3 separate regions of the Homo sapiens genome follow, and regions 1 and 2 are each linked to region 3. The links come from fine-mapping of genetic effects on gene expression. A gene starts in region 3. Each other region holds a variant in brackets. All regions are shown on one strand. Distances are from middle to middle.

Region 1 (2,769 bases), 26 kb before region 3:
GAAAAACATTTCTAAAATGGTTCTTGTCCTGTCTTAAATAAACAGGCTCTTTGAACATAGGTGAACCTTGCCTTGTAAAGGCATTGCTGAACTTAGACCAGTTAATAGTAAACAAATTCTGCAGTTGAGCTTCAAATGAGTCAGATATGCACATGTGCCCATTCGCCTATGATTTCCTGTAGCAAAGTTAATAACTATGGTGTAAGGATGGAAGAGTCAGTCATTTTTCTCCCTCCTACCTTTAGTACTTAGTCTTCCCTCACATTTGTTCTCTGTTTTCAGTTATTTTGAAATTATATTACCATTAAGAAATTGTGAGTATTATATGGGGTTTTTTAAATACTTAAGAAGACTCTTACAATTTAATAGTAGTTGAATATTTCTGTTTATAAATTGGGAAAAACACAATGTAAAAGAAGCAAGATGGCTGGCTGGGTGAGGTGGCTCACACCTGTAATCCCAGCGCTTTGGGAGGCCAAGGCAGGTGGATCACTTGAGGTCAGGAGTTCGAGACCAGTCTGGCCAACATGGTGACACCCCATCTCTACTAAAAGTACAAAAAAATTAGCTGGGCGTGGTGATACATGCCTGTAATTTAAAAAGGAAAAAAAAAAAAAAAAGGAAGCAAGAGCCTTAGAACTTACAATTCCAGATATAAAATCAAGTATACTGTCCAGTGGATTCAGCTGCTGGATGTTTCAAGTAATTAATTGATGAAAATTATGGAATATACTAGTCCAGCATACTTGACCTACCCTTGTATCATGAAATAGTCTATAAAATGAAGCGGCAGTAGGAGGGCCCATTTAATAACATAATTATCTGTTCCTTTATTATTTCTGTTACAGAAATTCATCTGTTGCCATGGGAGCCTCACTTTCTTGCTCAGAATATTCCCTAAAGGTAACAGATGTGACCAAAGTAAGGACTTTGAATGCTATCGCAAAGAACATCCTGGTGTAGCCAGACCTCTCTGAGAGACATGGATATCACAGGATGAAGGTAGAACTATAATCTGCAATTCTCTATGACACAGCTTTAACCTTCTTCTCTGGCCAGGACAGTCGCAATCTTTGTTTTAAGTTTCACATGGCCATGGAGAATGTGCCCAAGAAGAAAAAGAATTTGAAACAGAGATACAGTCACTTCCTTTGCTTAGTCTTACCAGTGATTGTCATCATGGTTAAAGCTGGTCTGTGCTTCTTCCATAGACAGAAGCTTAGTCTGTTTTCAGTGGAATTAATTGATGAACTGGGAAAATTTTAACTGCATGGTATGAATTCAGAGTGTGACTTAAGGGTCAATTCAAAGCAGTATTTTGACTTTTCATTTGTAAAATAAAAATTTCCACTATTACAGTATAGTCTCTTATTCTT[G/T]CACTAAATACAGCCTGTAGCCTACAAGTATGAAAGGAAAAGTGTTGTCTTATTTGGTTCCACACTTTCTCTTTTTATTATGTGCTGATTGGATATGCTGCTTTGGGCAAGATGCTAAGGGTACAGAGTAAAATGGTGCAGTGTGAAAATTCCCAGACTTGGAAACAGAATATCAAAGTTCCTAGACTTACGAAGACAGATGTGAACTCTGGCATTCAACAGGTTACTTATCCTGCAAGTGGAAAGAAATGGCTTAACTCTAAGATCCATCTGACAATTTTCAAAGACCTATAGTAAAAACTAGAGGGGGGTTAGGAAAGTTATCAAAGCAGCAGTTTCTTTCTACTGAAGTCACAGATGGGAAAGATGGATTCTAGTAATGAAATATTTTTCCTATGACCAGGTCCCAATGGTAAAGTTCATCACTACCTGTGTCTGTCACTTTCATATTTATAATCTCATTTTACACAAACAACACACTGATAATAGAACTGTTGTTCCTATCTTAGGAGAGTAACTGAAGCATAAAGAGCTTCCCCTTGGCCAGGAAGCCTCTGAATAACATGCACAGATTGTGTACTAATGAATGTTTATATGAAGAGTCTTGCCTTTATTTATTATTTATTTATTTTTGAGACAGAGTCTCACTCTGTCATCCAGGTTGGAGTGCAGTGGCACAATCTTGGCTCACTGCAACCTCCACCTCCCGGGTTCAAGTGATTCTCCTGCCTCAACCTCCTGAGTAGCTGGGATTACAGGTGTGTGCCACCATGCCCTACTAATTTTTTATATTTTTAGTAGAGATGGGGTTTCGCCATGTTGGCCAGGCTGATCTGGAACTCCTGGCCTCATGATCTACCTGGCTCAGCCTCCCAAAGCGCTGGGATTACAGGCTTGAACCACCACACCCAGCCTAGATTTTAGGGACTTTGATCTTTCAGGATTTCAACATTCAGGATTATAGCATTCAGGATTGTGTCTTTGGGGATTATGATCCAAACCCCTCTTTATGTATAAAGCAAGATATACATACAGTCCATAACAAATATACAGTGTATTTATGGTATTAAAATTTCAGGAGAGAGGAGTGTTTAGGGAAAAGGAGTGACCAAAAAATCTCCTTAGACATGATAGTCAAGAAACACTGAACTAGGATAAGGTACTGACAAGGGAGAAAGTCATGGTTAAAGGCATAGTCATAGTTAAAGCGAAAGCAGTAAAAATGTGATATAAAATGGATTTAATGTGAACTTATTTTGCTTAAAATGTGTCCTATTAAGGAATACATCATATGAACATTATCCAGAAGTACAAAAATAATGCAGATGTTTTAAGAAATCCAAATACTGAAATAGGATGGTATTCACATCTTTTCCTGTCTTACAAAGAATTA
Region 2 (2,769 bases), 57 kb before region 3:
CCCCATTTAACGAACAATATAGCTCTTGTCCACACCAGAAGTTCAGAAACACCTCTGTTCTGATCTTTCTCACTTTGCCATCCACCATCCCTTCTAGGAGTCAGAGGTAAAGCGACTGGGATATTTCTTGTTGTTGGTACTCCCTCCCACTCTATTTTTCAATTTGTTTCACCTTTGCCAATAGAAAATGTTGGCAAAATATTCAACTCCTATATGATCCAGCAATTCTACTTCTAGATATATATCCAAAAGAACCAAAAGCGGGGTCTTGAACACAGATATTTGCACACAACTCTTACCTTGTGCGGAGGGAGTAGCAGTGACAGTGAGGTCCACAAGCTGGCACAATAAAGAACCAGGGCTGATCCCAGGTGGGCAGCAAGGCGGTACTGACTGACCCGAGGGATGTCATGGGAGTCTGATTTTTCTTCTAGTCCACTTTTCACCATATACCATCCCAACAGACCCTAGAACCCCCAAGAGATGAAGCAAACAAAACAAGGTTAAAATGATCTGTTCAACTTTCTTTTTTTTGTTGTTTTTTTGAGACAGAGTCTCACTCTGTCACCAGGCTGGAGTGCAGTGGCGGGATCTTGGCTCACTGCAATCTCCGCCTCCCAGGTTCAAGTGATTCTCCTGCCTCAGCCTCCCAAGTGGCTGGGACTACAGTTGCGCATCACCACGCCTGGCTAATTTTTGTATTTTTAGTAGAGATGGGGTTTCACCATGTTGGCCAGATGGTGTCAATCTCTTGACCTCGTGATCCGCCCACCTCAGCCTACCAAAGTGCTGGTATTACAGGCGTAAGCCACCACACCCGGCCTGATCTGTTCAACTTTACTGAGGAAATGAGCTATCAGGAGTACTCTCTACCCCACCCCTCCTCTTTCCATACCCTCCCCAATACGCAGTGTCCCAAGATTCATGATTTATCCACAGTTCTTCACATATCACCATTAATACTTAACTACTATTTAGATCAGAAGTGTCTGATCTTTTGGCTTCCCTGGGCCACACTGGAAGAATTGTCTTGGGCCATGCATAAAATACACTAACACTAACAGTAGCTGATGAGCTTTAAAAAAAAAAAAAGGTCCATGGATATATCTCATAAAACTAGATTGAATGTTTTGGAGAAACTTAATAAAGGTAAATGCTTAAAAACATCTACTGTCAAGTTAGGTTGGAATAAGACAATTATAAAAGTTTCAGGGGAAAATCATAAAAATCAATAAGGTTTTGCATGCAGATCGCTTTGCAAATATCTAAGTTCCCACTCCGCTTTAAGCAAAACCACAGTTTATGGGGATATAAGAAACCTGCAGTTGAATGCCAATCTGGGGACGCATAGTCAAAGAAAAGGCCTTGATTTTGTAAAAGTTGGTAATGAACGTACAGATTTAAGTTTAAAAGTTTATGTTATGTATCATATTCTATGATTCTCTGCTTTAACTGGCTTTTTCAATTAACCAAACAATTGTTAGTTCCAATCATATGAAATAAGACAGCCCTTTCACTCCCACTTGCCAGTAGAATCAGGTCAAAGAGGTGGACTCTGCCACTTCTAAATATATACTCTTCAGGAAATCTTTTTGGGCATTTCTCTCCCCTTTCAAGATTACCCTGGATATTC[T/G]AATTACCTTGATTTCATCTGCAAGAGACATTGAAAGATGAAGACGTACACAGTTGATTCACTAGCCCACTTTCTTCTCCCATACCTTATCTGACATCTTTAATTTCTGCCTCCCTAATAGTGTTTTCAGTGTTGGCTTGTTTTTCTAATTCTAAAATGTTAACTTTCATTTTGTTCTACATGCCTTTCTCTGGTTACTATTAGACTTTGATTATTGTTTCTGCTGCCTCTATTTCTTCTCTCTCATCTCCCTCCTTAATCCCTTCTTTCTTTATTTATTTTTTTTGAGCCAGAGTCTTGCTCTGTTGCCCAGGCTGGAGTGCAGTGGTGCAACCTCTCAGCTCGCTGCAACCTCCGCCTCCCCGGTTCAATCAATTCTTCTGCCTCAGCCTCCGAAATAGCTGGGACTACAGGCCCACGCCAGCATGCCCAGCTAATTTTGGTATTTTAGGTAGAGACAGGGTTTTACCATGTTGGCCAGGCTGGTCTGGAACTCCTGATCCCCCACCTTGGCTTCCGAAAGTGTTGGGATTACAGGTGTGAGCCACTGCACCCGGCCTTAATCCCTTCTAACTGACTCATTTTCTTACCACTTCTGAGTTAAATTAACCAATTAGCTTCCTCCTGATTAAATTTTGATGTTTCTTTGATGCCCTGATAATCTCCTTTAGGATCTCTAAACCTTGACCCAAATACTCCTATGTGTCTTCTCTTTTAATTTGTTGCTCAGTTTCACCCAACTTTTTTTTTTTCATCATTCTAGCAGTACTAACCTGTTAACTGTGGGAGTCTTTCCTTAAGAGGCGCTCAACTTACGTGATTTTAATTGCCATTTATATCTGAATATCTCTCAGCTACATGGGTATTCTACAATCCTTCATCCCACAAAGTGTTTCTCTCTTTTGGAATTTTCCTGTATGCTTCTGTGGCATTCTAGCACAGGGATCCCTCTTTCCTATAGCAGACAAGTTAGAAAAAGAGGAGAGACAAGAACCTAGGGAGACACCCATGATGGGAAACAAACTACATCTTGCAGCACATGAAAATATACTACTGAGTGCTTTACTGATTCCAGGCACTAAGCTAAGTACTTTAAATATGGATTATCTCATTTAATATTTACACGACTGTACATG
Region 3 (2,769 bases):
TAGGTATGAGGTGGTATCTAACTGTGGTTTTGATTTGTGTTTTCCAGATGACTTGTGAAGTTGATTCAGTTGTCATATACCTGTTGGCCATTTATATGTCTTCTTTGGAAAAGTGTCTGTTCAAGTCCTTTGCCCACTTTTTAATTTGTTAGTGTATGTTTGCTATTGAGTTGTATGAGTTCCTTATAGTATATTGTGGATATTAACTCTTCATCAGTTATATGGTCTGCAAATATTTTCTCCCACACTGAATGCTGCCTTTTCATTTTTTTTATGTGTATACTTGACTTTTAAAATCAGTAACAAGGTCCATACAATTCACATTTGGCTGATATGCCTCTTGATTCTCTTGTAATTTGTAAGTTCCTTTGACTCCTTTCCTTCTTTTAATTTATTTATTAAAAAATGGAATCATTTGCACTATAGAATCTCCCACATTCTGGATTTTGACAATTGCATTCCAATGGAGTCCTTTAGCATGTTCCTGTGTTTCTTATAATCCGGTAGTTAGATCTAGAATTTGACCAGATTTAAGGCCAATTTTTTTTAGCTAGGATACTGCATGGGTGGTTATGTTTTAGCTAGGATACCGCATGGGTGGTTCATGATATCATGAAAAAAGCATGTTCTTAAAGCAATTTAAGTGACAGTACAAAAGGTTGGGTCAGGTGGGGCACGGTAGCTCATGCCTGCAATCCCAGCCCTTTGGGAGGCCAAGGCAGAAGGATTGTTGAAGCCTGGAGTTTGAGACCAGCCTGGGCAACATAGTGAGACCCCGTCCCTACAGAAAACATTTTTTTAATTAGCTGGGCTTGTTGGCATGTGCCTGTAGTCCCAGCTACTCAGGAAGCTGAGGCAGGAAGATCGCTTGAACCCATGAGGTCAAGGCTGCAATGAATCATGATGGCAACACTGCACTCTAGCTCAGGCAACAGACCAAGACCCTGTCTCAAAAAACAAAAAACAATAACAAAAAAAGAAAAGGTTGGGTCGATGACAGTTTCTAGCGACTGATGCCACCACTCTGTTTACAGAATCACCCCTCTCCTCTGGCCCTGATGTTTTATCATGATATCATATTTACAATGCCTGGCAAAGGCTTCATTCCCATTTGGCATACTACCTCTCAGGCAAATAGAACTTTTGAAAGCCTGTATTATGTATATAACATATAGGCTCACACTGGATAAGCTATTTTATAACCTGACTTCTTCAAAGAAAGTTTACATCATGTTTAAACCATGTTTTAGATTCTATATTTTTAATTAAAAATCTAAGGAAGAAGGATATTTCACATTTCTATAAACTCTAAGATCTTGCAGCAGAAGCGAAACTGCACATTTAGGGGTGCCTGCCCCTCTACTGATGCTGCCCTTTGTGGGTCATATGTCCTTAGGAAAATGAAAGACTGTGCACTCTTGATTTGTTGGCCAGCTCTGTTGACATCTTTCAGTGGTTCCTTTTATGTATGGCCACTCCTACAGAGGCCTCTTGTACTTTGGGAACTGGTGAGTCTCCCTGTCCCTAGGGCTTTTTAGTCACATGTCCATCCACTGTTTCAATGTAACATGCATCTAGGCAAGGTTAACGATTAAATGGTTGGGATGAAAGGTCATCCTTTACGGAGAACATCAGAATGGTAGATAATTCCTGTTCCACTTTCTTTGATGAAACAAGTAAAGAAGAAACAACACAATCATATTAATAGAAGAGTCTTCGTTCCAGACGCAGTCCAGGAATCATGCTGGAGAAGTTCTGCAACTCTACTTTTTGGGTGAGAAATTACATTTATCTTCATATTGACTCTTCTCAGACTCAGAACAAGTGGTAGTTAGTTAACTTAGGGTGGTCACCAACAAGAACCAGAAATGTTAGATGTGCAATTGGTCTAAAGCTCAGGCTTTTTAGAAAGCATAATTCATAATATCTCCAGAGGATATAAGATCTGGGAAATGTAATGCAAATTATTCTCTGTCATATGTTTTTTTATATCAGACTCTTGTACTAGCTAGTCGCAAAATTGCCTTCTCTAAAGAGAAACAGGTAAAAACCTTCCAATTTAATCCGTGTGAGGAAGGAGAATTGTTGTTGCATACTTTGCTAGTAGAAGGAAGAGAAGATCCGTGACTGAGTCTTGCTGAGACATGTTGATGTTGAAATGATAATGATAAGTTCTAGAACTGGCAACTAATGATATGGACTAGAAGTTGAGTCTAGGGATGCAACTTTGGGCATCATGAGCATTGAAATAATTTTTGAACAACTAGAGTTGGGTAATATTGTTTTTAAGGAAAAGAAGAGACACCACTTAGAGGGTGAACAAGAACAGTGTAACATTACGGAGTCATAGATAGCAAAAAATTTCAAGATAGGGGCCAATCAACAGTATCAAAGGTCTAGTGGAATAGAAAACAAAAAAGGACCTTAGATTTAGTGATTTTAGTAAGGGTTTGGTGAGAAAGTATCATCTGCAAACTCCTAGCCTCAGCATCAGAATCACCTGGGGCAATAAATGTAGTTTAAGTATCTTAAGTGATTCTTCTGAATTCTAACATTTGATAACCTTATATAGAGGTGAGAGGGGCAGGGATGAGATAGCAGAGCACCTGGGCAGCACCTCGTGTCTTAGAAAGGACCTGGGTCCCAAGACCCTCGAGGCCAGGAGTGTATACCACGGCAAGGTGGATCTTCATGGGCTATAGTATCTAGACAGGCCATCTCTTGAGAATTCTTTCTGAGAACTACCTGACAAACTTTCTTGGTCAGGGC

The links.
Region 1: its variant is fine-mapped to the expression of ABCC2 in whole blood (TOPMed, PIP above 0.99).
Region 2: its variant is fine-mapped to the expression of ABCC2 in whole blood (TOPMed, PIP above 0.99).

What each region holds. Positions count from the first base shown.
Region 1 is chr10:99,754,777-99,757,545 of GRCh38, forward strand. CUTC (cutC copper transporter) reads left to right here. Exons shown (of 9, transcript NM_015960.3): 9 at 849-1,358. The coding sequence ends at 963. Among named protein-coding and RNA genes, the nearest start is that of CUTC, 24 kb to the left of the region's middle. The variant G/T (reference allele first, on the strand shown) is at 1,377.
Region 2 is chr10:99,723,657-99,726,425 of GRCh38, forward strand. COX15 (cytochrome c oxidase assembly factor COX15) reads right to left here. Exons shown (of 9, transcript NM_078470.6): 5 at 300-467. Among named protein-coding and RNA genes, the nearest start is that of COX15, 7.1 kb to the right of the region's middle. The variant T/G (reference allele first, on the strand shown) is at 1,634.
Region 3 is chr10:99,781,104-99,783,872 of GRCh38, forward strand. ABCC2 (ATP binding cassette subfamily C member 2) reads left to right here and starts at 1,537. Exons shown (of 32, transcript NM_000392.5): 1 at 1,537-1,774. The coding sequence starts at 1,742. RefSeq lists an enhancer at 2,735-2,769.